2 separate regions of the Homo sapiens genome follow, and region 2 is linked to region 1. Evidence: fine-mapped expression QTL. A gene starts in region 1. The other region holds a variant in brackets. All regions are shown on one strand. Distances are from middle to middle.

Region 1 (15,099 bases):
AATACATTCACACTGTGGGCCGTTACCCACAGAACTCTTTCCATCTTGCAAAACTGACTCACTGTACCCGTTAAACAATAACTCCCCATTCCCCCTCCCCAGCTCCAGTAACCACCATTCTGCATTCTGTCTCTATGAATCTGACTACTCTAAATACCTCATGAGAATGGAATCTCTTACATATTTTTGAAATCTGGTTATCTTTAGATTGTATAGACTTTTCTCAGAGACAAAACTTGGAAGTGGACAAAACTGTATTTCCCATTTTGTCTTTCACATTGCTATTATCGTCTTCCTGTGTCACACGGCATCTGGAGCCAAGGCAGTGCTCACCTGTGTAGGTGTGATGTGGCTGATGTCTTCAGATGCAAGCTGCTTCAGAAGAGTGGTCTTGCCAGCATTATCCAAGCCCAGGAGAAGTATTCTCACCTCCTGGTCTGGTGCACTTTTCAACTTGCGCAAAATTGAGAGCAAGCCCTTCAACAACCACAAAGGAGACAGATTACTCTGGGGGCACTGACTGTGATATTAACTGGATATGAGAATAACTTCTCCTTGAAAAAAGTTATTGGTTATGGAGAGCTTATGTTATTATTTTTCATTCTAATGCCACTTATTCCATTTGCTTCCTCTTTCCAAGTTTCGGTAGAAGTGCTACAGTAAATTCAGCAACTTAATAAGTAGCAGGGCTTATTTCTGCTCCTCCAATCAATCTAGCTTAGCAGTCACCCCAAATCTCCTGGGAGTGTGAACTCTACCCCATCTGTGTTCCTAAAGCCCTTTACATACACTTAGAGCAGAACATTCATCATATCAAACTAGGTAACTGATGTTTGTATTTTTCTCCTTTACTAAAGTTTCTCGTGGTAAGGGCTATACTTGTCCCATAATGCCTGGCACTTATCAAACAGACACTAGATAACACTTGTGGAATTAAATAGGATGACACACCCAAGTTAACACACGATTTTAAGGTGTTATACAAAAATATATAAAAAGGCTATATAAAATTATAGTTGGGCTTCCTGTTAATGATTTTATCTATTTCATCATTTCACATTGCATGCCTGTATCAAAACATCTCATGTACCCTATAAATATATAACACCATGGACCCACAAAAATTAAAAGGAAAAAATTTTTAAAAAAGATTTTATCGCCGGGCACGGTGGCTCACATCTGTAATCCCAGCACTTTGGGAGGCCAAGGTGGGCGGATCACGAGGTCAGGAGATCGAGACCATCCTGGCTAACACGGTGAAACCCTGTCTCTACAAAAAATATAAAAAATTAGTCGGGCGTGGTGGCAGGCGCTTTGTAGTCCCACCTACTCGAAATGCTGAGGCAGGAGAATCGCTTGAACCTGGGAGGCGGAGGTTGCAGTGAGCCGATATTGCACACTGCACTCCAGCCTGGGTGACAGAGCAAGACTCCGTCTCAAAAAAAAAGATTTTATCTATTTCAGCACATCTTCAAGACTTCTTCATTCAAAATGTTCTACTATCATCTTTCACAAGACCCTACAGGATAGGTGCATGGTATAGATAATCTGTGTTTTTTAGATGAAAAATTTGGTACAACAGAGAAGTTAAGAAATCATAAAAGGCATCCATGAAGCAAAACAAAACAAAACAAAACAAAAACCCACCAAAATTAACCAAGGAATTTTTTACTGTTAATCTAATATTTCCCTCTGTCACCCAGGCTGGAGTGCAGTGGTGCAATCTCGGCTCAACTACAACCTCTGTCTCCTGGGTTCAAGCAATTCTTGTGCCTCAGCCTCCAGAGTAGCTGGTATTACAGGCATGTGCCACCATGCCTAGCTAATTTTTATATTTTTAGTAGAGATGGGGTTTCGCCATGTTAGCCAGGCTGGTCTTGAACTCCTGGCCTCCAGCGATCAGCCCACCTTGGCCTCCCAAAGTGCTGGGATTACAGGCCATGAGCCACCTCTCCTGGCCATTATTTATTATTTTTTATGGATAGAAATATAAAGCATGTTGCTGGGCATGGTGGCTCACGCCTATAATCCCAGCACTTTGGGAGGCCAAGGCAGGAGGGCTGCTTGAGCCCAGGAGTTCAAGACCAGCCCTGGCAACATAGTGAGACCCTGTCCCTACAAAAAATAAAAAACAAATAAGCCAGGCATGGTGGCGCAGGCCTGTGGTCCCAGCTACTCAGGAAGCTGAGGTGAGAGAATTGCTAGAGCCTGGGAGGTCGAGATTGCAGTAAGCTGTATTTGTACCACTGCACTCCAGCCTGGGTGACAGAGTGAGACTCTGTCTCAAAAAGAAAAAAAAAGAAAAAAGAAAAAGAAAACAAAGAAAAAATAAATAAACCATGTTGATTTTTAGTTAAGAACATAAGAACATCTTTATAGGAAAGTTATTTGTTCTGTGCTATAGCTGATAATCTTGTTCTAACGACACATGGCTAGAACAAGAGTCAAAGAATCCCAGAGTTTAAAGGGCATATAATTTAATCTCCCAGCCCAAGAAGAAATTCCTTCAAACTGAGTCTTAGAATTATGCAAAATGGTTGTATTTGTTATTCACATTGTACCAGGCAATAATTCAAACCAGTTTGTTCACTAAGATCAAAGGATACTTCTGAGAAATAATTCTCAACAACTGCATCTTTGGACAATCATACGCAAATATGCATAATTATTAAGAATTCCTTTCTGCCTCAGAGACTCTTTGTTTACCACTTCTAGTACTGTATCTGTACTGACTTGCTAAGGACCACATTAACCTTTCTATGCCTCAATTTTTTCCAGCAGTAAGATGGAAGGTTTAGTCTAAGCTAGACAAATTCTATGCCAAAAGATTTGGGGGACAGAGATTGAATAGATTGGAAACAAACAGAAGTCTGGCTTTTTAAAAGGCCAGACTTTTTTTTCCTTTTTCTTTTTTTTGGGGGGACAGGGTCTTCCTCTGTGGCCTAGGCTGGAATGTAGTGGCGTGAACACGGCTAACTGCAGCTTCGACTCCCTGGGCTCAAGCGATCCTCCCACCTCAGCCTCTCCAGTAGCTGGGACTACCGGCTCACACCACCACGCCCCACTAAGTTTTGTATTTTTTGTAGAGATGGGGTTTTGCCATGTTGCCCAGGCTGGTCTTGAACTCCTAAGCTCAAGCGATCCACCCAAAGGCAAGATTTTTTTTTTTGCTGTTTTTATCTCATCTGGTCTTGAATACTTTGACAGCATTCCTTCTTAAAACTATATTTACAAGAAGTCTCCCTGGTTTCTATTAGCTATATTGCAATCACTCATTTATAATATCACCTTTCAGAAAAGTAAAAATTAAAATTCTGAGATCCTTAGGGGACTGGTGACATAAAAAGGCTAAGAGGAAAACCCATTTTACTACTCATCCTGAGTTCCTGATTGTAAGTGAAAAGAAGAGGTCTCATTACCTCTTAAAATAAATTATAAAACATCTGGAATTTATCAAATTAGTACATTAAATGACACAGGCAAAGTTCTTCTCATGCATTTTCTGCTTAGTGCAGAAATTATGAAGGAAGATCTGTTTCCTATTTTAAAAAAAATTTTTTTTGGCCGGGTGTGGTGGCTCACACCTGTAATTCCAGCACTTTGGGAGGCCGAGGTGGGTGGATCACTTGAGGTCAGGAGTTCGAGACCAGCCTGGCCAACATGGCGAAATCCCGTATCTACTAAAAATACAAAATTAGCCGGGTATGGTGGCACATGCCTGTAATCCCAGCTACTTGGGAAGCTGAGGCAGGAGAATTGCTTAAACCCAGGAGGTAGAGGTTGCAGTGAGCCAAGATCATGCCTCTGCACTCCAGCCTGGACAACAAAAGTGAAACTCCATCTCAAAACAAAAACAAAAAATAAAACCATATATTATATATATATATATATATATATTTTTTTTTTTTTTGAGACAAGGTCTCACTCCTAATGCCAGGCTGGAGTACAGTGGTGAAATCATGGTTCACTACAGCTTCAGCCTCCCAGGCTCAGGTGATCCTTCCACCTCAGCCTCCGGAGTAGCTGGGACTATAGATGTGTACAACCGCACCCAGCTAATTTTGTGTATTTTTAGTAGAGACAGGGTTTCACTATGTTGCCCAAGCTAGTCTCAAACTCCTGGCCTTAGGCAATCTGCCCGTGACGGCCTCCCAAAGTGCTGGGATTACAAGAGTGAGCCACTGCACCCGGCCTATAAAATATTTTCAAAGTTTAAAATTAATGTTTTGGGTTTTTCCTCATGTGTCTCTTTTAAAGAAGTTACTAAAAATACTGTTTTTTTTTTCAGGCAGAGACTTGCTCCACACTCATTACATTTGATATTAAAGAATTAAGAGAAAAACAAGGCCAGGCACAGTGGTTCACACCTGTAATACCAGTGCTTTGGGAGGCTGAGGCAGGAGGATAGCTCAAGGCCAGGAATTCAAGATCAGCCTGGGCAACAAACACGAGACACATATCCCTACCAAAAAAAAAAAAAAAAAATTATCCAGGTGTGGTGGTGTGCACCTGCGGTTCCAGCTACTCAGGAGGCTGAGACAGAAGGATGGCTTGAGCCCAAGAGTTTGAGGCTGCAGTGAACTATGGTCGGGCCACTGCATTATGGGCTAGGTGACAGAGCAAGACTCTGTCTCAAAAAAAAAAAAAAAAAAAAAGAGACAAACATAATGTTTATTCACCTTAAAAGGAGAGGAGCAAAGCACAGATAAGAAAGAAAAAGAAATCATTCTAACTATAAGGCTGAGTGCAGTGGCTCATGCCTGTAATCCCAGCACTTCGGGAGGCTGAGGCTGGCGGATCATTTGAGGCCAGGAGTTTGAGACCAACCTGGCCAACATGGTGAAACCCTGCCTCTACTAAAAATACAAAAAATTGGCCAGGCATGGTGGTGGGCACCTATATTCCCAGCTACTTGGGAGGCTGAGGCAGGAGAATCGCTTGAACCTGCGAGGTGGAGGTTGCAGTGAGCCGAGATCACACCAGTGTACTCCAGCCTGGGCCACAGAGCTAGACTGTTTCAAAAAAAAAAAAAATTCTAACTATAGATAAACTTTATTAACCTAATGGTGTAGAATACAGTGCTTCTACATTTCTAATGAGTAATTTTCCTTATTAGGAAATAATAACTTCAGATACTTCACCTTTGAGTGAAATTACAGAGAAATGCAAAGTTCAGCTAATGTTTTCTTCCAGCAAAATGATAAATGGCATTTCAAGCATGGTCTAGGGAAGACAAGTGCAAATATAATACAGCATCATATTAATCCAACTACTGAGGATGGGATCACAGGATTATCAGGGTTTGCTAAATAGGGAAGAGGATATTTATAGAGATCAGGGTTCTGCCTGAAAGGTACAAAGTAAGCTGATTTAAGAGGCTGGATGAAAGAGACCAGAATAAGTCTATTCTGTGCATCTATACATATATGCCCATATTTTATTTTAACTGTCAAATGAAGGGAGACAGCGATTAGAAGTTAAATTTATCATAGGGCTGAGTTTTGCAGTATAAATACAATGACATTAATTTTTAAAGTGCATTTTTTGGCCAAAATATCCATTCACGCAATTATCATTAAACACCCTTAATGTGCCCCAAGTACAACAGTGAGCAAAACGGGCATGATCTCTATGTAGGATTTATATTCCTGTGACATTAAATAAAACAATTTAAGAAACATGAACTTCAGTTAAAAGTATATTGTGTGTTACCAGCATGTGTGTATACAAGTTATCTACACCCTGGTGGGCAGAAGTGGTCTGACTCAACCACAAAACATTTAAACAAACTTTTCTACAGTCAAATCATGAATAGATGTGCTATGGACTACAGACGTTTTATCTGCCTCGAAATCAGCTTAAACTACTGGCAGAGGCATGGTGCCCTGACCTAAAACAATACAAACTAGGTCATTCAAAGAAACCAGAGTGGTGGAGGGAGAAGGAATGCGTTGGTATATGGAAAATATATGTGGTTGTGAGGACCAGCTAAAATTTGAATTCTGAAATTACGAAGCCAACAGTCAAGTACATACGGTCCCCATAACTAGCTTAAATATAACTGACTTCCATTTGTTTTTACGTCTTTCAACTGAACTCCTATCAGCTTAAAGCTCAAAATTGAGAACTTAATCCAAACTGTGTCTTCTTTCTCATCACCCTCTCCTAAATAAATACAAACAATGTTTCCTAAGGAACAAAGTCTGAGCATCTCCTCAGGAAGAGTGGGTTCCCACTTCACCAGAGTCCTAATGAAATGAATGTTATGGGCTTTAGAATTTCACAGACTTGTATTCAGCTTCTGTGTGTGTGTGTGTGTGTGTGTATATATATATATATATGTATGTATATGTATCTGTATATATATATGTATATATATGTATGTGTGTGTGTGTTTTTATATATATATATGTATATACATAACACTGCACACAGTTTCAGCTAGAAAATAGGAACAGGCCGGGCGCGGTGGCTCACGCCTGTAATCCCGGCACTTTGGGAGGCCGAGGCGGGCGGATCACGAGGTCAGGAGATACAGACCATCCTGGCTAACATGGTGAAACCCCGTCTCTACTAAAAACACACACACACAAAATTAGCCGGGCGTGGTGGCGGGCGCCCATAGTCCCATCTGCTGCGGAGGCTAAGGCAGGAGAATGGCGTGAACCCGGGAGGCGGAGCTTGCAGTGAACGGAGATCGCGCCACTGCACTCCAGTCTGGGTGACAGAGCAAGACTCCGTCTCAAAAAAAGAAAAAAAAAAGAAGAAAACAGGAACAATACTTACATCTCAAGAGATGATGCTATGAGGATGAAATGAGGTCATGTATGTAAAGCATGACACATAACAGCCACTGAAAAGACTACCCTCGTGTTTTGTTTATTTTTTTAAAATAATTTTTCACGGGCCATTTTCTAACCAGAAAACATAAGTAACTGTTGGGAACAATCTTCAAATGTTGAACATGCTTGAGAACGACCACAAGCTCCATATATGTAGAAAGTGCTCCATAAATAATTACTGAATGAAGGAATCATATGTTAAATATAAGTGGTTAGTTACGTGCTAAAATTACTGTCATTTTAGTATTTTAGTAATTCATCAAGAACCTGGCACTGTAAAGCAGGGGTAAAATAGCTGACTCTAAATGTTCAGAGAAACCCATATTTGGGTTTTTGCCACAGTTACCCAAATTTGAAAAAAAATATGTATTTGTCACAGCTGAAGTTTAAAACAAAAACCAAAAAAACCTTGGGGTTCACGCTTCAGTTGTACAGTTAACCATGGGGGCTCATGGGATACCAGATGGGATACACTTAAGTCACACGACTGACTAAATTCAGTGTTTCACTTCAAGTTTTAAGAACAGCTCACGCTTGTGGAGATAGAAAAAAAATGTTTTTGGGAAACCAGATAAAGAATCCGGAATAATTTGTCTTAATTTCTTATTGTTCATCTTAGGAAAAAGGAAAAAAGAAAAACAAAATCTGTTTTCATCATTGAACACAACAGTTGTATACAACAGTGTTGTATATACACTGTAAATTTGTTGTATACTGTGCCAATTTGCACCTGGAAACATGGGCAGTGGTTAATTTACTGTGGCCTGTAATTATAAATTAAACAATCATGGATTACACAGTACACTTAATTGATCAACAAACTGGGAAAAGTTAGCCAACTCTCATGCACTTCTCATCCATAATGATGAATCTCAATCTCTGTTGGTTCGGCATGCCCTTTTCATTCCAATTCTAGCTATTTTCTGGGTAAATATTTATGTTTGTACTCATTTGTTGAGAAAAACTTTAACTTTAAAAGGACAGCTCACGTATAAATGATTAAGAAAAAGAAACAGTTGTAAAAATCTGTTTAGCCTGAGGTTAAAAAAAAACTGCAAGTGTAGCAAGTGTGAAATGTGATTGGCAACTTCAGATCAAATAACCCTACTTCTTTAACAATCTGACAATGTAAAATCAATTGAGTTTTTTTTTTCCTTTCTAAATCTACTCACTGGATAATCTGACCAAACATACATCTATTTTTTTTTTTCCTGGGCATCTAGTTTTTTTGTTTTTTTTTTTACTTCTTAAATCAACAGAAATGGCTCAACATTTCTAAAAGTCAAGAAAGGAACTAGGAAGAGAGTTGGAGCAGTGACTATAAGTTTGATGACAGGCTCTTTGCAGCCAACTAACCTGCTTTAAGTGTTCAAAATCAATTTTTCTTTGATAGCTCTAAAATTACTCAATTCCATTTTAACTCCCTCCAACTAACTGTACAGACATTAACAAGAAACAGAGTGTCAACGGTCAGATCTGTCACAACCATAATTTAGAATTTGGGAAAGCTTTAATTGGGACTGACAGAGAAAAGCCTTGCCCCGGATTGAAGTTCGATCTCCATTTTTAACTTCTCGTTCTTTTCAGTTTGGAGAACTCAAGCTAGGATTAAGATCTTTTGGTCCTGGTATGGTCACACGCAAGAGGAGACTGCAAAAGGTTTCGAAGGAAATTCTAGAGACGGAGCAGCTAATATGTCTTCATCAACATGGATTATGTATTGAATGAAAAATCGGTCATCACCAACAATCAGATCCTGCAAAACTCTCAGCAAATAACTAAATAATTCGGGACTGAGGAAGCGCACCCGCCACGCAGACACCAAGACGGCGTAAAATCCACCAGGCATCCCTTCCAAGCGGCACCCCTTTGTGTCGTGGGACTTACTTCCCTACCCCCCAGGGGCCCGCACAGCGCGAGAAGGAGGAGAGCTAGGCTACCATCTCCCCTGCTACCGCCAGGGCGACCTCAGAGCCAATGGGGCCGGCCTTCTCTCCGCTTCTGGCCGGGCTCCAGACGAACCCCACTTTACTGCAAAGCCGCGAGACCGATTGCCCGGGAAGTCTAAGCCTGCTAGCGAAAGCTGCTCTCCGCAGTTCCTGGGATCCGCCCTCACCCCTGTCCCCAGAGTAATGATGGAGCCCGGGCTCCGCACCCGGCCAGCCGCGCACTCTGCCAGCCCCTTCCCCAAGCCTCGGACCCGCTGCAAGCCCCGCCTTCCTCTCCAGGCCCAGGCCTCCCTCCAGGGCCCACCCTCGGGTCTCCCCGCCGACCCCCGAAATCAGTCCACAACCCAGATAGCAGGCTGAGCGACGTCCCATTCCCTCCTTGGCTTTAAGCGCAGTGCTCCGCCCTGGGCCTGGGGACGGGAGGGGGATAACCGGCCGGCTCCAAGGGGGCCCAGGCCCCCACACTCACCATCCTCCCGCCGAGTCCCTCCTCCTCCTCCTCCTCCTGCTGCCTCCCCCGTTACCAGGGGCAACTGCTGCGGCGCCGCCCCCGACGTCCCTCGCACGCACAGCTGAGGAGCTGAGCAGCAATACGGGGCGGGGTGCAGCTCCGCTTTCCCCAGAGTGCGCAAGTGCGCTAAGGCGCCCGCCCACGCAGTGGGCGGGCTACGGGAGCTGCAGAGGCCGCCGCCGGCTCGCCTGGACCAGGGAGTGGAGAAAGCCTGCCCACGTGGCTGGCGGGAGCCTCCCGGCCTGGGATTGGTCGAAAAGGAGGGGCGTGGGGCGGGCGTGGGGGCAGTTCCCCAGCCCAGGTCCTCCTCTCACCCGGGCCAGTTTTCAAGGCGGGCTGTAACTGGTGGCATTTGTCCCGGGACCAGGTAAGGGGCCTTGGGACAATGGCGCTCGCCCTGTCTACCTCCAATCCCCACATCTCGGGTGGGTGCTGAGATTGCTGTCCTGACTGCCCAGGCGGGGCTGCAGCGCGGGCTGGACTTCCACCTGCAGAAGCCACGTGGCGCGAAGTGCGCCCTGGGGCTGCAGATGGGCCCCTCTGCTCTGACCCCCATTGCCTAGGAGTGCCAGGCCGAGCGGCTGGGGCGTTACGAGCTGTCCGGGATGGGGGAGTACCGATGGGGGGAGGCCGTCTGTCGGAGGGCAAGAAGCAGCCTGGGGGCTGGCCCTGAGCCCTGAGGTGAGCTGAAAGCACAGGTGAAAGGCGTTTTGGGGATCGGCCCGGTTTTTGTTTTGACACAGGGTGTCGCTCTGTCGCCCGGGCCGGAGTGCGGTGGCGCGATCTCGGCTCACTGCAGCCTTTGCCTCACAGGCTTAAGCGATTCTCCCGCCTCAGACTCTCGAGTAGCTGGGATTGCAGGCGGGCGCCACCACGCCTGGATAATTTTTTGTATTTTGTTTTTGTAGAGACGGAGTTTCGCCATGTTGCCCAGGCTGGGCTCGAACTCCTGGGGTCAAGCCATCCGCCCGCCTAGGCCTCCCAAAGTGCTGAGACTACAGGTGTTCCAAAGTGGTGAGCCACTGTGCCCAGCCTCTGGCCGGTTTTGCTAAGCTGCTTTGGACAGGACCGCGTACCATCTGTAGTCCTGGAGGAGGCAAAAATGAGCCTGCATTTTTAGCCAAGGAAGAGCAAGTGGGACACTGGGGTGGGTTGGGAAGTGCTACCTCCCATCCCTTTCCCGATGCAGAGGACTATAAGAAGAGTTTACACAAACGTGCTAGGCCCTGTTCTAGACGCTGGAGACACAGCAGTGGACAAAATCAGCCCGTATGGAAATTACATCCTTCCTAATGAAATACATTTCATACCAAATTTCATTTTCACAACCCCTAGAAATTGGTAATTGCGGCCAGGCGCAGTGGCTCATGCCTATAATCCCAGCACTTTGAGAGGTGGAAGGGGAGGAAGGCTTGAGCCCAGGAGTTGGAGACCAGCCCGGGCAACACAGTAGGACCCTGCCTCTACAAAAAAAAATTTTTTTTAATTAGCCAGGTTCCGTGGCGCACTTGTAGTCCTAGCTACTCGGGAGGTTGAGGCTGGAGGATTGCTTGAGCCCAGGAGCTATTATCACATCACTGTACTCCAGCCTGGGTGAAAGAGCAAGACCCTGCCTCAAAAAAAAAAAAAAAAATGAAAACAAAAATCAACATCTGCTGCTTGCATACCTGCTTCAGATCCTTGGAGAGAAAAAGCAGTTCAGAGCCTTGACTAAGGAGGTGATGAATGGAGGTGATACAGGAGCACAAACCCCTATAATCTACTCATCTCCAGACTGTTGGCCCTTTTGTGAAAAAGGCAAGGGAGGTTGCTCTTTCTAAGTTGTCTGGTGCCTAACAGCCCACTTGCCTTGGAGTCAGACGAGTACCCATAAGCCTATACCTGGGCCTGCTCTTGTAATTATTACCCTCATTTTCCAGCTTGCTCTAGGCAGCCTTGACCTTAATCCTTGCCTGTCTCAGTGGTCTTTGTGTCTGACCTTCTGGGGTCTTTGGCTACCTTGATCTTCCTCTGATGTGAGTACCAGCGATGATGTTTCGTTTTTCTCCCTACCTGGGGCTACAAACAGTAATCTTGTGCACTTCTGCTTGTAAGAGGATACCTCAGAAGGAATTTGGAAGCTTGTTTTCTGATCTCTGATACCATTTGCCAGAGAAAATCTGCTCTTTCTGGGAAGGATGAGCATTACGTCAGAGGTGGCAGTAGTCTATTACTTTTTTTTTCTCTTTGTTTCCCTCTCTTTCTTTCCTTTTTTTTTTTTTTTTTTTTTTTGAGATGGAGTTTCACTCTTATTGCCCAGGCTGGAGTGCAACGGTGCGATCTCGGCTCATCACAACCTCCACCTCTCGGGTTCAAACGATTCTCCTGCCTTAGCCTCCCAAGTAGCTGGGATTACAGGTATGCACCACCACGCCTGGCTAATTTTTTATTTTTAGTAGAGACGGGGGTTTCTCCATGTTGGTCAGGCTGGTCTTGAACTCTCAACCTCAGGTGATCTCTCTGCTTTGGGCTCTCAAAGTGTTGGGATTACAGGTGTGAGCCACCGTGCCAGGCCTCGGAGTTGGCAAGTAGGCTATAGTGGATAGAGGACCTTGGGGAAGTAAGGCCTTAGCTGTTGTCCAATCTTTGAGGACTGGATCTGTTGATTGTTCGTGTTTATATCTGCTGCAAGCGCTTAGTGCAGGGCCAAGTGTATCAAAAATGCCCACTGTGGTGGCCCAATCCATGTGCACCTTTCTAGGCTTCAGTTTCCTCTTCTGTAAACTGAGATCTTAGATCACATGTCTTCAGGCTATGACATTCTCTCTCTCTTTTTTTTTTTTTTTTTTTTTTGTGGAGACGGAGTCTCGCTCTGTCACCCAGACTGGAGTGCAGTGGTGCGATCTTGGCTCACTACAACCTCCGCCTCCCGGGTTCAAGCGATCCTCCTTCCTCAGCTTCCTGAGTAGCTAGGATTACAGGTGCGTGCCACCACGCCTGGCTAATTTTTTGTATTTTTAGTAGAGACAGAGTTTCACAGGGTTAGCCAGGATGGTCTCGATCTGACCTCGTGATCCGTCCGCCTCGGCCTCCTAAATTGCTGGGATTACAGGCGTGAGCCACTGCGCCCGGCCTCAAGCTGTGACATTCTCTAATCCTAGGAGGGAGATATCATTAAATCACTGGTCTGATTTTTACTCCTACTTTGTTCCTAGTAGTGGGACCATACAGAAGTGGGGCTACCCTGGACATGATGATGACCTTTTTAGGGAAGACTAGATGTGGCTTGTGTGGGAGGAGGGACAGTAACTGTAGAAGAAAATTTAGAGACCAGTATGACTTAGTACAGGCAAGGTAGACAGTTTTGCAACTTCATGAAAGAAAGCGTGCTCTTAATTCTGTAACCTAGGCAGGTTCTAAGTTTGACTTAAAAGAGGTGACATCCTTGATGCCAAGAGACCCAAGAAGAAGTTGGAATGCATTTCAGGTAAGCAGTAAATATTCTTCGAGGGCATGTGAAACATGTAGCAGTAAACATCACAGACATGATCCCGATGCTTGTGAGCCTTACAGTCTGTCAGGGGAGGCAGACTTTACACAAATCACAGTCAATGACAAGAAGGTGACAATCACAAACGCCCAGCATGCTGCAAAGGACAGGATGCTGTAGGAGTATATATCACAGAAGGATTTGAGTTTGTCCTGAAGGAGTCGGGGAAGAGTGCCCATTGGGGGACAGTGGGTGTGTGGGGGGAAATGTTCCAGACAGATCGTTTAGTGTTTTTTTTGTTTTGTTTTTGTTTTGGCTTTATGTTTTATTTAAGACAGGGACTCTGCAGTTTCTATCCTGACTTCAATTAAGAAGGCAAAGGCTCTTGCATAATTAGCAAATGTTTAGATTACCCCTTGATGATAGTCCCTCCATTCTGAGAAGCAGAGGACTTTGCAATGTTGTGTTAAGGTGAACAGAGATGTCAGAGAAGGTCTGGCTCTGTGTGTATGTGTGTGCTGAGGGGGAGGCATAGCATTTTGCTCAGTCAGGCTGTCTCCAGCATGTATGAGCCTGGGGCTCTGTAAGCCAAGGCAGCGTGTGTTCAGCCAGCCAAGCTGACTCCTTTTAGGTTCATGTAGAGCATGGGAAAGTGAACTCTTTCCCCTCCTCCCACTCTTGCTTCAGCTGGGACTGAGATAAATGCCTTTGGTCTTTGAAGCAGCCTGCAGGAGGCCAGGTGGCAGGGAGAGGGGAAGTCTGTTTTGGCAGTGGACTCTTTCTGTCTGCCTTCTGACTTCTCTGGAGATTGCCGCTTCAGAGAAGCATCGGGGCCAGGCCAGGGCGCTGTGGATACTCCATATTGAGCCTCTCCTCTTGTTCCTGGTCTTTCCTCTTAGGAAATGGCGTACCTCCAGCATATCAGCTTCCTGATGTCTCTTCCGCCTTAACGAAAAATCTAAAAATTGACCACTGCTCTTCCTTCCCCAACACTGTCCCTTCTGCCTCCTTTCTTGAACTTGAACTCCTGGCCTCCCAAAGTGCTGGGATTACAGGCCTGTGCCTGTCTCCACCTCCTTTCTCTCTTCTTTCTGGTGGTTCTTCCCATCTTTGGGGGCTTCCTTTTCTCGGCTTCTTTTTTTTTTTTTTTTTTTTTTTTGAGACAGGGTCTTGCTATGTTGCCAAGATGGAGTGCAGTGGCGCCATCTCGGCTCGCTGCAACCTTCACCTCCCGGGTTCAAGTGATTCTCCTGCCTCAGCCTCCCAAGTAGCTGGGATTACAGGCGCCTGCCACCACGCCCGGCTAATTTTTTGTATTTTTAGTAGAGACAGGGTTTCACCATGTTAGCCAGGCTGGTCTCAAACTCCTGACCTCGTGATCCGCCCGCCTCAGCCTTCCAAAGCACTGGGGTTACAGGCATGAGCCACCGTGCCCGGCCTCAGCTTCTTTTTTTTTGAGACAGAGTCTCACTCTGTTGCCCAGGCTGGAGTACAGTGGCACAATCTCGGCTCACTGCAACCTCCGCCTCCTGGGTTCAATCAATTCTTGTGCCTCAGCCTCCTGAATAGCTAGGATGATAGGTGCCTGCCACCACGCCCAGCTAATTTTTGTATTTTTTTTTTTTATTAGAGATGGGGTTTCACCATCTTGGCCAGCCTGGTCTCAAACCCCTGACCTCAGGTGATCCACCCGCCTCGGCCTCCCAAAGTGCTGGGATTACAGGTGTGAGCCACTGTGCCCGGCCTTGGCTTCTTAAATGTCCTGATTTTTCAGGGTTTGTCCTCAGCTCTCTCCTCTTCCCATTCTGTGTGTTCTCACTGGAAAACTTTATCGTAAATCACCTCGATGCTGCTGACTCAGTTTTTTCCTTCTAGCTCTGACCTCTGTTTCCTTTCAAGCCTGAATACCCACAGGCTGATGAACTTCTTATTCAGCAAATACTTGAATATTGTGCTAGGCACTGGGGTGACAGTCGTGAGCAAAATGAACATACCACCTCACTTCACAGGTGAATTATTTAACTTAGCTAAGGTGCTATTTCCAAGAAAAAAACAAAATGACCTAGTAGTAGAAGCTATAGAAGTAAATCTGAAAATTATTTGTACAAAAAAATAAAAGGACAAATAGGTACTATTTAGTGAAGAGAGGAAAGACTAGCTTTTGAGTATTGTGTTTGGAAAGGACCTGAGACAGGAAGAGGCCTATTGCATTTAAGAAAATCCCGGCCGGGCTTGGTGGCTCACGCCTGTAATCCCAACACTTGGGGAGGCCGACGCGGGTAATGGGTCACGAGGTCAGGAGATCGAGACCATCCTGGCTAACACGGT
Region 2 (15,099 bases), 35 kb before region 1:
AGTGTTAGGAATGTGGCCAAGAGGGCCTGCCTGTGGACGGAGCCCGTGTGTCTCCTATGGTGAGCTCTTTCTCCTCCTGCTCCAGCGGTCTTGGGGGGCTCCTAGGGCTGTGCCTCCAGGGGGCTGGCACAGGGGCTTCTGAGTCCTGGGTGGAAGTGGAGGCAGCTGATCCCAGGCCAAAGCCCCAACTACAACAGCCTCCCCAGGCCCTTTCCTTGGTTGTAAGGGTGGGGCTGGGCACCTCCTGCCCCCTCTACTGGTGGCATCCAGAGCAGCAGCTGACTCTGGGACCCCAGGGCAGGGTCTTCTGGATCCTGAAAACAGGGTGAGTGGCAAAAAGCGAGGGCCGCCTCTCACCTACCTCCCTGGGGTGGCATCATGGAATAAAATGGGCTTTCAGCAAGTGGGCTGGCGGGAATCACAGTCAAGCCATTTCCTAGCTGTGTGACTCTGGGCAAGTGACTTAACCTTTGTGAGCCTTGGTTTCATCATCTGGGAACTAGGGACAGTAAACGGCTATCTTGTAGGGCTAATCAAAGGATGAGACCCACTAATGACTCAAAGGAGAAGCAGTTGGCTTAGCTAAATGGGATTCTGACCCCAACCCTGTACCTCTCAGCTTCAGGTATCCAAGCAAATTCTCCCTGCCCCCTCCTGGACACAGCTTGCTTTCTGCAGTTCTGTCATTAATATTTCATTTCTTTAGCAAAGGCTTTTTGTCCCTGGGACACTGCTATTCGCTCTGGAGAAGAAACTGTTCCGTGTTCCTTCGTGCAGAAGGATTCCTTAGCTCCTTTTCTGAGAGCAGAGCATTAGGAGCCAAAAGCAAACAGGTATTGTGGTATAAATTTGGGACCCAGCAGTGAAATAGGCCTGAGTTCAAATCCTGACTGTGCCCAGTTCTTCCTGTGCGATCATGGGCGAGTGATTCAAATTCTATGAGCCCCATCCTCATACTGTGAATGACAATACCTACAGTTAACAGTGTCTTTGCGAGGATTAAATAAGGTAACTGTGAAGTACCTGGTGCAAGTGGCTACCTCCTTAACTCTTTCCCCCGGTTCTGACACTGTGGGGGACTGGTTGTTGGCTGCACTTCCACGCCTGTGTGTGGTTGGTTCTGGACACACACACACACCAGTGCTGGACCAGCAGAATGACTGCAGGGAGCCAGGGCTCTCTTTCTCTCCTCCCTGCCCCTGCTCCTGGTGGCTGCAGCTTCTCTGTGTTCTGCAGTGTTGGAAAAGGAAATTACAGAACAGATTGCAATTAAGGGGGATGAGGGGGAGACAGGGACAGAGGCCGTGAGATGCAGCTTGACTGAGCACTAAACTGTGTTTGCGCCTGGAGCCAATCAGGAGCCTCTGATAAGAGCCTTTCCCACTTACAAAGCTAAGCAGGAGGTGTGGTTGGGGTGGCCCTGGGAGTCCCGAAGGGAGGGGGCTGCTGGCCTTGAAAGTCACAGAGCCACATGGGAGGGAAGGTGGGAGGTAGAGGTCTTAGGGGCCTTGGAAAGCCTGGACTCCAGACTTTCTGCCAGCTGTTATATTTGCTACCATTGATTTAGCACCTACTACTCACTGTACGGACATCTCATCTCATCCTCTTGACAACTGTGCAGCATGATTATTGCCCAATTTTGAAGATAAGAAACTGAGGGCCAGGCACGGTGGCTCACGCCTATAATCCCAGCACTTTGGGAGGCCAAAGCACGTGGATCACCTGAGGTCAGGAGTTCAAGACCAGCCTAGTCAATATGGTGAAACCCCATCTCTACGAAAAATACAAAAATTAGCTGGGGATGGTGGCACATGCCTGTAATCCCAGCTATTCGGGAGGCTGAGGCAGGAGAATCGCTTGAACCTGGAAGGTGGAGGTTGCAGTGAGCCGAGATCGTGCCACTGAATTCCAGTCTGGGCAGAAGAGCGAAACTCCGTCTCCAAAAAAAAAAAGAAAAGAAAAAGAAACTGAGGCATGGAATGTTCCTTCTATGTGCTAGGTATTGTCCTAGATCTAGGCACTTTGTTTACATGAGATCTCTTTTAAATCTCCCTGTGCTGACCTAGTCAACATGAAAATGCTGGGATTATGGGCATAAGCCACCGCACCCAGCCACACTTTTTAATTGCACTGCGCTGTCCCTTTTTTGGGCAGGGAGTGCTGGGAAGGGTTTTGCCAGCTTTATCAAAACAAAACCAAAAAGCTAGGATGGCCAGTTAAATTTGAATTTAAGGTAAACAATGCATTTTTCTAATGTTATACTGATGTCCCAAATATTGCATGGGATATACTTGAATTAAAAACTATTCATTGTTTATCTGAAATTCAAGTTTAACTGAATGTTCTGTAATGTATCTGGCAACCCTAATTCTTCTTTCTCCTGCTTCCAGCTACCAGCTAGTTCTGCCCACAGCTTGCTCTTTAAAGGCCGGGCGCAGTGGCCCACGCCTGTAATCCCAGCACTTTGGGAGGCCGAGGTGGGCAGATCACGAGGTCAGGAGATTGAGACCATCCTGGCTAACACGGTGAAACCCCATCTCTACTAAAAATACAAAAAAACCCCAAAAGTTAGCCGGCGTGGTGACAGACGCCTGTAGTCCCAGCTACTAGGGAGGCTGAGGTGGGAGAATGGCATGAACCCGGGAGGCGGAGCTTGCAGTGAGCTGAGATTGCGCCACTGCACTCCAGCCTGGGCGACAGAGCGAGACTGTCTCAAAAAAAAAAAAAAAAAATTAGCCAGACATGGTGGTACATGCCTCTAGTCCCAGCCACTTGGGAGGCTGAGTTGGGAGGATGGCCTGAGCCCAGGAGGTTGAGGCTGCAGTGAGTTGTGACTGTGCCACTGCACTCCAGCCTGGGTGACAGAGCGAAGTCCTGTCTCAAAAACACAAAACACACACACACACACACAAATGGTGAGGCCCTTTGGGACCAGCTGTGCTGCTGTGTCTCTAGCCTGCTGAAGGGACAACGAACTCTTCTGCTCCAGAGGGCAGAGCCCGGGACAGCTGCCAACTCTGCACCTTCCATGTAACACTGGGCAGGTCTGTTCCCTCTCGGAACCCTCTGTAAATGGAAGATCCAGTATTAGGTACTATGTAACTGCAAGTCTCCCTGAAGGCCCTAACTTTGCTAATTATTTCTTCTCCCTTTTTCCTGTCTGTTGGGCTGGACTTGGCCAAGGATGAAACCCAGTCTATGGTTGTGCTGTGTGAGCAGAGGACACCCAACACCTGGGGCAGGGAACCCAGGGGAGCAGTGCTTGTCAGAGGCTGAGGGGAGGAGGCTGGGCAGAAGTAGCACTCAGAGGCTGGGGGGGCTGAGGCTGCTGGGAGATGAGCCATTGACAAATTTTTTTTTTTTTTTTTTTTTTGCAATGGAGTTTTCTCCTGTTGCCCAGGCTGGAGTGCAATGGCACGATCTCAGCTCACTGCAACCTCTGACTCCTGGGTTCAAGCAATTCTCCTGCCTCAGCCTCCCAAGCAGCTGGGATTACAGGCACGTGCCACCACGCCCGGCTAATTTTGTATTTTTAGTAGAGACGGGATTTCACCATGTTGGTCAGGCTCGTCTTGAACTCCTGACTTCAGGAGATCTACCTGCCTTGGCCTCTGAAAGTGCTGGGATTACAGGCGTGATCCGGCCTTGCCATTGACTGTTTTTGTTCTCCAGAGGCGGCAGCTTGCTGAGCATTGAGACCCAGGCTCCAGGCCCCACCTGCACTTAAAGGCTCTGTGATTTCAGGCAAATTCCTTAACTGGGGCAAATGTCTCAATGTCCTCTGCTGCAAAGGGGGACTAATGCTCACCACGATGTATCTGAAGTGCCCGGCACGTAGGAGGGGCTTAATGAAGGGCTATTATTGCTATTGTTGGTATCCTATTTTATATATATATCCTTCTGGAAAAAACCTCTTGAAGAAAGCTAACCCCTGAAAGGACAAACACATTTCAGGCCCTCTCTGAGCTTCAGCAAAGAACACAACACATTCCAGGCTGCCTTCGTTCCAGCTAAATTTTATTTGTCGGATTTTTGACAGACGTCTAAATTATACATTGAGTTTTCCACATGACCAAACACCACATCTCTTCCTTTGATTATCATTTTCAAAAGGGATTATAAAAAAAGAACCTTTTGATGGATCAGACTGAACCCTGAAACCACATGGAGTGCAGAGCTAAAAATAAAAGGAAGTAAGAACTGGTCCCCGAGAAGGAAAGGAAAGGGAAATCAAAGCAAACTCTGACGGGAATGGAGAGACGAGTCCTGGTGAGGGTGACATGGTGTCACCCTCCAGGCCAGGCCGGATAAGGAGCGGCCAACAGTGAGGGTGGGGCGCAGAGTGGCACAAAAATAGCCACTACTTTAGTCCAGAGGGGAATAAAGAAATTTGTCAAAAGCAAGGAGAGAGAAGTGGAGACGGAGGGAGGGAGGAAGGAAGGGGGCAGGACCATGTCCTCCCAGCAGCCGTGGGAGCTGCGGACTCCTTTAACCCTGGCACATTTCTAACCGCCGGCATAATCGCTGACTTTCAGCTGTGCACCGACATGTTCCCCAGCTCAGCCCACATCAATGACACCCTTGTTTCCATAGTAACCAAGGGAGAGTGAAGGGGAAAGGGTGTGTTGCACTGGGTGCAGGGAATCCAGCCAAAAGCAGCCACACGGGGTAGGTCGGGAGGAGGGGAGGACTCGAGTTTTTCCCACAACTGGCTTGAGCACATATCACGAGCACCCCCCAGGCCTTGCCTGCCCTCCGGCCCCCAGCCCTCTCCCCCGCACATTCAGATGCAATTGTGCGCAGGGCAAAAGTCTCGCTAAGACTCACTGGGGACAGGAGGAGGGGAAAAGGGGTCTTCCCTTTCCAGCTTCAAATTCTGTCTTCTGGTCAGGGGGCAGGAGTGGGCAGGGAAGAGGCAAGAGGGCTTTAAAAAGTATTTTGTTTTTAAATGGGAGCTTTCAAACTCTGCCTTTTTCAGGCTTCTCTCATCTACCCCAGAGCCCCAGGAGGGTTCAAAAGGGCTCAAAGGGAAGATGAAAGCGTGTGACATCTGCAGTGTCTCTGTGTCTCTGCAGCTGAGAGCAAATCAGAACATTTACAGAGGCCGTTATCAGAGGAGTGGCTTCTGCCTGCTAGGAGAGGCCTTGGGATGGCTCTTTAAAACAGTCCCCTAAGTTGGTGGTAAAAGAACAAAAATATTTTACAGACCCTCCAATGCCAAAGTTCCATACTGCAGTGTTCCAAAATTGCAGACCTCCAAGCAGGCATTTTGCCCCTCAGATAACTTGTCCCTGCTGAACTATTCGGAAGAAAAAACAATTTGCAAGTGCTAGAGCCACATTTGCAGCCTGGTAGAAGGGGGATTTCTGATTCCTTATAATTCTGTGTTGCCTCTGTAAGGGAGAGCTTGGGTGAGCCAGAGAAGCCAGTGGAGGAGGCTGCAGAGAGCAGCTAGCTCTGAGGTTAAAAAAACCCCTCACTTTCTTTTGTTTTGCAAGTCCTTACAGGTCTGTCCACAGCAACTCTGGGGCACCTTTTCACGGCTGGCTTTGTTAATGACTTTCATGTCAGATCGCTTTTGAAGCTGGCTATGCCTCAGTCTCTGCTGCACTCTTAGCCAGAAGCAGCTGGGTATTGAGGGCCAGGGGCTGCAGCGGCCCCTTCAGTCTGCTCACACGCCCTGATGGGCTTGGGAAGGGCCACCTCCCAGGATGAGAAGGCAGCTGGCCCCCAGGGACCCACCAGTCACTGGACAGTCTCTTATTCATTCTCTGAAAACCCCTGAGCTCAGGCACCAGAACAGAGTTTAATTCAGGAGCCGGGCAATGCTCTGGCCTGTTTCCCCATGTTTGAAGCTGAGGATTTCTGAGGTTCAGGGAAACAAGCTCGTTTTGCAACGAGGGGCAGGAGAAATGTTCTGCTATTCCTCTCCAATCAATCAACAGAGGACGGACATTCTGCTGCAGAGAGGCAGAGGAGCCCAGCAGCTGGGGTGACTCTTGATTCCTTGGACACGACCCCTGCAGTCACACACACACCCATGTCCTCCCCAGCAGCAAACCCTCTCCATCCAGGAGCATCCCACACCACCAAGTTGCCAGCACTGTAAAAATTGATCTAAAAATCGATCTGCCTGGCTTTTCTCAGTGGAGCAGGTTCATGGTAAAGCTGCATTTATTTCTAAAATCTGATAGCAGCGGCCTATTGTGATCGTTTAAACACAGAATTCTTTGAGCTTTAGAAATCCTGTCTATAGGACGGCCGTGGAGAAGCCAGCTAATCTCAGAGTCGGCTGCTCACTGCTCCACTGAGCTGGAGAAAGCCTGTTTACGCTAGCCTGAGCCCTCGATGTGAGAGCTTTTTAAGGACCTTGTAATTTTTCTGGAATTAAACCTCCCACCTCTCCTTACATTCCAGATGTCATTACAGTCAAAAGTCATAAGAATTTGCTTCTCTGTGTGGCTGGCTGGGGCAGAGGCAGGGGTGGGTGGGATGGGGTATGTTTCTGTAGTGACTTGTCTGCAAGAAAGACTTTTTTTTTTTTTTCTGTCCAAAGAGTGAGGATTACATACGTAGTCTCCGACCTGCAAGACGATGAGATGGTTTAATTATCTGCCTTTTCTCCCCCCACCCCCACCCAGCAGCTTCCTGTCGGACAGACTGAAGCCTGGCTGGGCTAGTGACGGTAAAAATCACTGACAGCACCAGCAAACACTGTCTGTGGTTTCAAAACCATGGAGGGAATGCAAGGGACGGGTCAGTAAATAAATGAACTCAGCAAAGCTGCTTCTTCCTCTTTTTCTTTTTCTTTTTTTTTTTTTGAGAGGAAAAAAAAGCCCACTGGAATTGTCTAAACTGCAATGCAATCTCTTGCTCATTTAAAAGATCTCATTTTCTAATCATGTGCTTTGAGACATTTAATACTATTTCAATTATGCAGAGGAAATAATATAATTCCTTTATTTGAAAAATGATACTGAACCTCAGAGATCAGTTAAATCTACTGCTGGAATGGGGATTCTTTCTAAACCGTGTTGTTCCCTCTCTTCAAACAGCTGGAGCTGTACACAGATGGAAAAACATTTGGTCAGAAAGCAGCAAATTAGTGTTTTTCAGGACCGAATTCGGCTCCCGCAGCTCCTGCATCTCCATT[C/T]GTCTAGATTTTATTTCTTCTTTGCATTGACATTTTTGCAGACCCAGTTCATGCCATCCTTTGAGGGAAATGGGCAGAGAAAGGCAGTGTTAGTTATAAGAAAAGCACCACACACTCTAGCCTGGAGGGGCGGGCAGTGGGGGTCCCAGGCCCTCCCTCCCAGACCGCCAGCTTTAGGGAGTTTGCTTGGCTCAGGGGCCCACCTGGGTGACCAGGGACAGTGACCTCCCAGGAGGAGGAGGAGGGAGGTCTCTGAGAGCACAAGAGGGCGATGGGAGGGGGATGCCCAGCGCCTGAACTTGAGATGGGTCCTCAGGAACTCCCTCTGAAAAAATAAACACATCTGCCTGCATCCAAAGCCTGACTGAAGAGCTATCAGGAAAGATTCCAGCCATTTTTGGCTTTTTCTAAAAGGTGACCTTTGCCAGGGCATTAAATTCAATAAGCCACCCTTTTGGTGCCCCATGTGTTTACAGTGTGACAGTGTACACTTGGGTTAAATTAAATTTCTTTTTGGAAAAACAAACCTACTGCAGTGAGTGTTGCGAGGCACACACCAGGGCGATGTGCATTTACTTCTCTTCCTGCAGCACTCCAGATAGGTTTAAAAGGGTCTGGCCCGCTTCTTATAGCTTTAAGCACCAGCATCCAGAGGGACTGGGGAGAAGGTTCCCTTAAAGGCACAATGACCTTGAAAGCGCCCTCTCTTAGAAGGCTGAAGAGGGACCAAGGTAAAAATCACACAATGCCTACAGCTACCTGGCAGGCAGCATAATTCCTACGGATGCCAGGCCTGTCAGAGGTGAACTCCTTCCCAACCCCCTTTGGAGCCAAACCTGGACACTCTCCCCTTCCCTAGAGTCTCCCCAACCTTCAAGAGTGTGTGGAGTTCCCTCAGAAGCCCTGAACAAAATCCAAGGCAGCTGCTGCCATGAGTCCTTCCCCTTGCATCTGTAACAGAGGCTCACGGAGGTCCCAGCTACATCTGCACACATCAGCCATACTGGACATGCCACCGAGTCCCACATTTCCTGTGGCCATGGATCTAGCTGCCGAACCTGAACAGCTGAGACAGCTTACAGTAATAAATATCAGCTGACACCCTTGGCCATTCGGAACATTAATCCCATAAACAATACATCACTGCAAAAAAACAACCAGCAGGCATCCTCTCTCCTGGCTCATCTGACCGTCACCTGAATTTACAGTGATTACAACTCTGCCAGTTGCTGTCAGTGCACTTGGGCAGCAGAACTAGATAATCTGACGGCTGTCCCAGAGCCGACATCTGACCTTTGCCAAGATGAGGCCGGTGGCGCCGAAAGCCCGAAGGTGGACAGCACCTGGCAGCAGCAGGGGGAAGGGCAGAGGAATGCCGAGGTGGGAGAAATGAGGACTCCAAACGCATCTCTAATTACAATGGGGTCAGCTACTTACTCTGAGAAGCTAAGGCCAATTTTAAGACCATTTTATGAAAAGGATTAATTTAAAGAGAAGCATGTTTAATTTTAGTAGCTAATTGGTTTCCAGGAAAAAAAAAAGATCACCTGTCAAGAGACAAAAAAGATTTTACAAATAAAAGAGGGATGAATAAGATAAGCATCTTCTCTCGCCTGGGAAGCTGAATAGCTCAGCACTTACATAGCACTTTCCACCTTCAGGGGCTCACACAAACACTCAAAGGTGGGCACCTCAACACTCTCTCCTCTACGGAGGCTCGCACTCAAACCATCTTCTCAGAGAAATCAAGGACAGTGTGCCCACACTATGTGAATAGCGCTTTGCCTTTTCCTTGCTTTATGGCTGATTAAGGAGAGATTATTGCATATAACTGAACATGAATGCAGGCAAAGAGATAGGAAAAATATTTACTCAGCTGCAGGAGCCCAAAGCAGAAGGTGGAGGGTGTGGGGTGGTTTTATGCCGGGTCTCTGTTATGGAGGCAAAGGAGGGTTCAAACGGCAGAGCCCTGCTGAGGGACAGTGTCTGGTGTCTCCAGGTGCCTGTGAGGGCCAGCAGTGGTGAAGCCCTTCTAGCCACTGTCCTGCCAACAGAGGGCGCACAGAGGCCAGTCCCTGCCAGCTGACCCCCGGCCTGGGCCCCTGCAGCTGCCGCTGCAACCCTGAGTGTGGGAAGCACAGGGAGCGTAAACAGGGGACCGAGCCCTGTGGCTGCCCTGGGCCCGGGAGGCCCCTCTAATCTGAAGCGGCTAGTGCTTGGGGAGTGGCATCTTTCTTGTGCTGGGCAGAAGAGAACTGGGCTGGAGGTGGGAGGGGAGGGAAGGGGAGGCATTGGCCAACAATGGTACCTCCTCAATCACGTGGCCATGGATCTAGCTGGGGCAAGCTTTGTCAATCACATCAGGGCAAGCTTTGTCAAGCTGCCTCCTGGAAAGGAAAGGCAATGGTGGTGCCCAAGCTCCCCTAGGGGAGGCTCCCATCAGACTTGCTGGAGATTATATTCCCAGAACCTAACATGATGTCTAGCCCACAGCCCACTTAATTCACATCTTTTAAGTCAATCCTTGTAGAAGCCTGCAAAGTAGGTGCTGGTGTTATTTCTCTATCACAGCTGAGGAGATGAAGGCACAGGACAGAGCAGGGCAATGGCAAGCTGTGGTGCCCAGCGTGGTGCTCCAGAGCTGCTTACCAGTTCTCCACGGATGTGGGTACCTGCCGGGTGAAGGGTTCTGCCCCAAGCTTAAAGAGGAGCTGGGAAGCACCCTGAAGATGGGAAAAGGAGGAATTCTGGTTTTATCCTCCTTGTGACTTCCGCTAAAAACAGGGGCCTGAGACTGGAGTAGCCCCAGCCAAGCCTCCCTGCAGCTCCGATAGTGCCAGAGGTTGTTATGGGCCATTCAGTTCTCAAGATTCCTGGGCTGTGGGTATCTGTATATGCAGAGGCCTGGTTATCTGCCTGGCTGCACAATCCTCACATATTAACCATCCACCCAGACCACCTCCTCCAGTGGAAATGCTACATTTAGAGAAAACATACTTGCAAGAGGAGGAACCTTCTGCTTCTTATGTTTAAATAAATGTTCCATACCACTCTTGCTTTCACCTGGCAAGGAAGGCTTTTTTTTTGAGACGGAGTCTTGCTCTGTCGCCCAGGCTGGAGTGCAGTGGCATGATCTCGACTCGCTGCAAGCTCCGCCTCATGCCATTCTCCTGCCTCAGCCTCCCAAGTAGCTGGGACTACAGGCGCCCGCCACCATGCCCGACTAATATTTTTGTATTTTTAGTAGAGACAGCGTTTCACCATGTTAGCCAGGATGGTCTCGATCTCCTGATCTTGTGATCCACCCACCTCAGTCTCCCAAAGTGCTGGGATTACAGGCGTGAGCCACTGCACCTGGCCGAATCTTTATTGTTAAAAACTGGTTTGACCAATTTTCTGTACATTTGATCTTCATTATGGGGATGACGATCTTACGGTATGAATAGTCCTCCCTTCCTTCCTTCCCTGGACCCTCCCCTGACCAATCTTGCTGAAACTGAATTTGAATTGATTAGCTTCAATTCAATAACAGAGACTAAAGAGAGACATGGAATTTCAAATACTGAGCTTTGTTTGGCCTCCTAGAGAGGAAATAAAGTTTCCTATGTCACAATATTATTCTCCCCTATAACCACTGGGAGAAACAGCAGGCCACCCCTAAGCATACAGGGGAAACTCACTCCTCCCAAATCTCTGCATCCCAGAAGTTAAGGTGCACTGCTTCTTTCCAAGGGAAGAGTGGTCTCTGACTATGCTGCTCTCTTAAATTTGATCTCTGTACATTGCATCCATCACTGCTCGGTAGCTGGAAGGAAGCGGTGGCAGCCATGGCTGTGTGGGCCTGGTTTTTAGAGCCATGCTGGTTACGTGGTCACAGCAGTAATTGCTTTAAGATGATGAGGTGCTCGGACCCTTGCTGAGCAATGCAGCCTACCTCATTGTGCCATCAGGCCCCCAGGGTCAAGAAGCAGCTGGATGCTGCTTCCATCAAATATGGCTCGCTATTAGTAGTTTTTTTTTCTGGTGACAAAGGGCATTGCACCAGAAAGGTAGTGAAATCGCATGTCCTGAGACTGCTTTCTTAGTCTCCAGAAAAGTTTGAAAATTTAAAAATAAACCTGAGGTCTGACTCACAGATAAGCAGTTCCATATACACCTGGAGTCAACAATAACTGATGCCAGGCCTAGAAAGAAGTGGTAAATTTTGTTTTTCAAAATATCAGGCCAGGCGTGGTGGCTCACGCCTGTAATCCCAGCACTTTGGGAGGCTGAGGCAGGCGGATCACCTGAGGTCAGGAGTTCGAGACCAGCCTGGCCAACATGGTGAAACCTCGTTGCTACTAAAAAAAATACAAAAAATTAGCCAGGCGTGGTGGTGGGCATCTGTAATCCCAGCTACTCGGGAGGCTGAGGCAGGAGAATCGCTTGAACCCAGGAGGTGGAGGTTGCAGTGAGCCAAGGTTGTGCCATCGCATTCCAGCCTGGGCAAGAAGAGCGAAACTCCATCTCAAAAAAAAAAAAAAAATTAAAATTCTGTGGCATATTAGGGACAAGTCCCCCAAATCAAGGAAAAAGAAGCAAAACCAAGAAATGGGCGAGTGAGCATTTAGTGTTCCTCTGGAGGCTGACTCAGGCACGGATCACAGCTCGGCGCTCGGACTGCTCATGGCCCCTTTTGTGGACACAAGGCAACTGAAAGCCTATGTGACCTGCTCATGGCTCCTGTCTCCAGGAGGAGGAGAGGAACGTGGGGCAGACATCACAAGAAAAGGTGAGCATGAGGGGGTGGCCTGGAGAGCAGCACCCAGGGCACGATCTGCTGGCTTAAGGTTATGGGAGGAGGCAAGTCTCCGTGGTGACCATGGCTAGAGGTCAGGTTAAAACTTCGGATCTCTGCTTTGAGAGGAAATTCAAAGCCAGTATCATTTTAATTACACATACCACACACACATGCACACTCAGAGTATTTTAGAGAGAAAATGTCTTCAAATGCCTGGAACTGTAACAGCAGAAAGAGCTGTGGTTTGGGGTTCAAGTTCAGGTCTGTGGGTGGAGGAGGGATGGATTTCTCGATACCTTTCTCTGGCTCTAAGCCAGATCCTTTGTTCACTATTTTCTAGACACCCAAGGAGGGAAAAAAAAGACTGAGAGTCCCAGTGCAGAATGTTTCATCCTAGGAGGGGCCCTGGCAACCTGGGCCTGACCTCGAGGGCGCAGAGTGACACTTCCTCCATGTTGATAATGGAGTCTGGCTTCGGTTCTCCCTCCCAGACATTTTTCAGTTTCTCCTCTTTCCGCTTTCATCCACTTGACATAACTGGGTCTCTCCTCATCACTCCCCTGGACAGTGGGCCTCTTGGCACAACAGAGTTTCTGAGATTGATGATCTCCTTCTGCTTCTCGTGCCCTTTACCTACTCTCTGCTCCTGATGGTCTCCCGTGAAAACCTGCTTTAATCATACAATGGGCTGGCTTCCCAGTCAGCACCAATGAGGAAAAGAAACCCCGGTTCCATCCTCTCTCAAAAGTCAGTTTCCACACCTGAAGCAGAGGCTGGTGAACAACACGTGGTACTTCCCACCCCTGTAATGGCTTCGTATGTGCTGCCTTCAGGACACCAGGTGGAACGGGACCCTGAAATCCATCCCAGGAATCACTAACTTCCATAGTCTCAAATCATGTGTTTAAGCTACTCCACTAATGAGAAGTGATGTACCTGCCCTACTTCATCCACAGAGGGGCGTGGCTTGCCATCTAGCAGCTCCATGGCTGTTTCCTTAACTCGCCCCCGTGAGGCTACCTATTGTTAAGCAGTACAAGACAGGTCTCTTAAATATGTTTTGATTAAACATGTACGATGTATGTGTCTGTCTTTAAACACTTGAAACTGCAACAGAAATTCCAGGTCCTTTTTTTATTTTTAAACCTTTGTACATTTTCTTTCAGAGTTGTTAGAATCAGATGTCACCTGACTTGCCTATTCAGTGCCTAATCATTTGGGCCAGCTTTTGGGGAGGTGGGGTGGGGTAGGGAGGAAAAAAACAGGAATTTAGGGCATTTCAGTAATTATTGCACAGTTTTCACGTTTGAAAGTGAACCTCAAACCATTCGATCTTTATTGATATTTTTCTAGTAAAGTCTTTCAGTTTTAGAATATTTTTAGCCCTAATAAATAAAAATTACTAAAGGCCTGTACTTCAACTAAGCAATGCTGGAAAGGAATTCCACTTAAGTGACTCTTTTTAAGGCAAAAACCAGGAAGCTGGTGTGTGGACAAGAGCTTGGGTCAGAGGCACCACCTTAGGGAGGTACACGGTCAACCAGTGGCTCACAGTGAAAAGCGCTTCCACAGCAAAACTCCATGACCTTTCTCTAGTCCCCAAAGGTTACCACGAAAGGACAATAGACAGCAGATTCCCTTCTTAATTAACATTTTTATTAAATAACCCATTTCAAATAATGGTTAAATTCTCTAAATTTATATCATTCTATTAACCATAATCTAATCTCATTAACCTTGAAATCCCAGTCTTAACTACCCAATTCTATACACCATGGTACTATCTACTAAACTAATTAAGTGACCTTCAAACTATTTCTCCTCCATACAAAAATCATTTTTTATTTTTTGCTCATAGTTTTTTGTTGGATCTCTCTTGATATCATTTCCTGTGAACTTGGTTGCTGAAGGCCCCAATCTGGGAAGAACTTTCTTATCAAAATCAAATCATATATAATAATCTCACTTTACTCACTCAAACTGGTTTATTTTGCAGTGCTCCCCTGCCTGTCCCCAACCCCACCCTCTAGCTGCCTAGTAGCTTGCTGCCTCTTTTGTGGCCTAAAGATCCCGTGAAGGGCACTGTCTACGGTGGTTACACAGCCAGGAGCATGGAGTTCTATCCTTTAATCTCCACCTGATGGGAGTTGGGGGAGGGCTGGGGGTTGGGAAGAAAATGACAGGAGATCCCTCTCTACCTCCAGGCTTCTCTGAAGCAGTGTCCTTGACTTTAAATGCCACGGCTCTAAATACTGATTCTAGATTACTCTAGTTCTCCTTTTTCACATCGCTAAGGCTGGTGGAAGATACAAGAGGCTTACTGTTAATTCTCGCTTTGCTTTTTCTTCAACACTCTGGTCAAGCAAAAGAAAGATTCCAGAGCTGTACTTGCACTTTCTTACGAATATGCACACAAACTATATTGCTTTTCTTCAGCCCCACCTTCATAATAGCCCCCAACCTCAAGATGCTCTCAGCTTTCTCTCTCTTTTTTTCTTTTTCTGAGACAGAGTCTCACTCTTTCACCCAGGCTGGAGTGCAGTAGTGCAATCTCAGCTCATTGCAAGCTCCGCCTCCTGGGTTCAGGCCATTCTCCTGCCTCAGCCTCCCGTGTAGCTGGGACTACAGGTGCCCGCCACCACACCCGGCTAATTTTTTTGTATTTTTAGTAGAGACGGGGCTTCACTGTGTTAGCCAGGATGGTCTCGATCTCCTGACCTCGTGATCTGCCTGCCTCGGCCTCCCAAAGTGCTGGGATTACAGGTGTGAGCCACCACAGCCGGCTACTCTCAGCTTTCTAAATTTGTCATCTAAACCTTTTAGACAGGCTCATGCTGAAGTGGTTTTCAGAAACACAAGAAAATTACTATCTTTTCTTGGGTCTCATCTTCATCAAAATAACCTTAGGCCTTATGACTGCCATCCTATGTGCAATCGGAGTAAAATATGTTAGACAAATTTTGATTGTTTATTTTTATTTATTTATTTATTTTGAGAGAGAGTCTTGCTCTGTCGCCCAGGCTGGAGTGCAGTGATGCGATCTTGGCTCACTGGAACCTTCGCCTCCCAGCTTCAAGCAATTCTGCTGCCTCAGCCTCCCAAGTAGCTGGGATTACAGGTGTGCACCACCATGTCCGGCTGATTTTTTTTGTATTTTTAGTAGAGA

Which allele goes with the higher level. Alleles are on the strand shown, and positions count from the first base shown. SD is a standard deviation of normalised expression in the study named.
For the expression in skeletal muscle of the gene that starts at base 9,385 in region 1, C is the high allele of the variant in region 2 and T is the other (moderate effect, 0.52 SD a copy in GTEx).

What was found.
Region 2: its variant is fine-mapped to the expression of ARL3 in skeletal muscle (GTEx, PIP 0.96).

The regions. Positions count from the first base shown.
Region 1 is chr10:102,705,013-102,720,111 of GRCh38, forward strand. It overlaps ARL3 (ARF like GTPase 3), which reads right to left and starts at 9,385. Exons shown (of 6, transcript NM_004311.4): 1 at 9,261-9,385; 2 at 334-477. The coding sequence starts at 9,263. It overlaps SFXN2 (sideroflexin 2), which reads left to right and starts at 9,624. Exons shown (of 12, transcript NM_178858.6): 1 at 9,624-9,669. RefSeq lists silencers at 9,045-9,144, 9,185-9,234, 9,302-9,696, 9,515-9,664 and enhancers at 9,450-10,026, 10,027-10,602.
Region 2 is chr10:102,669,731-102,684,829 of GRCh38, forward strand. It overlaps ARL3 (ARF like GTPase 3), which reads right to left. Exons shown (of 6, transcript NM_004311.4): 6 at 4,001-7,211. The coding sequence ends at 7,164. Among named protein-coding and RNA genes, the nearest start is that of TRIM8, 33 kb to the left of the region's middle. RefSeq lists enhancers at 1-569, 570-1,171, 4,075-4,624. The variant C/T (reference allele first, on the strand shown) is at 7,154.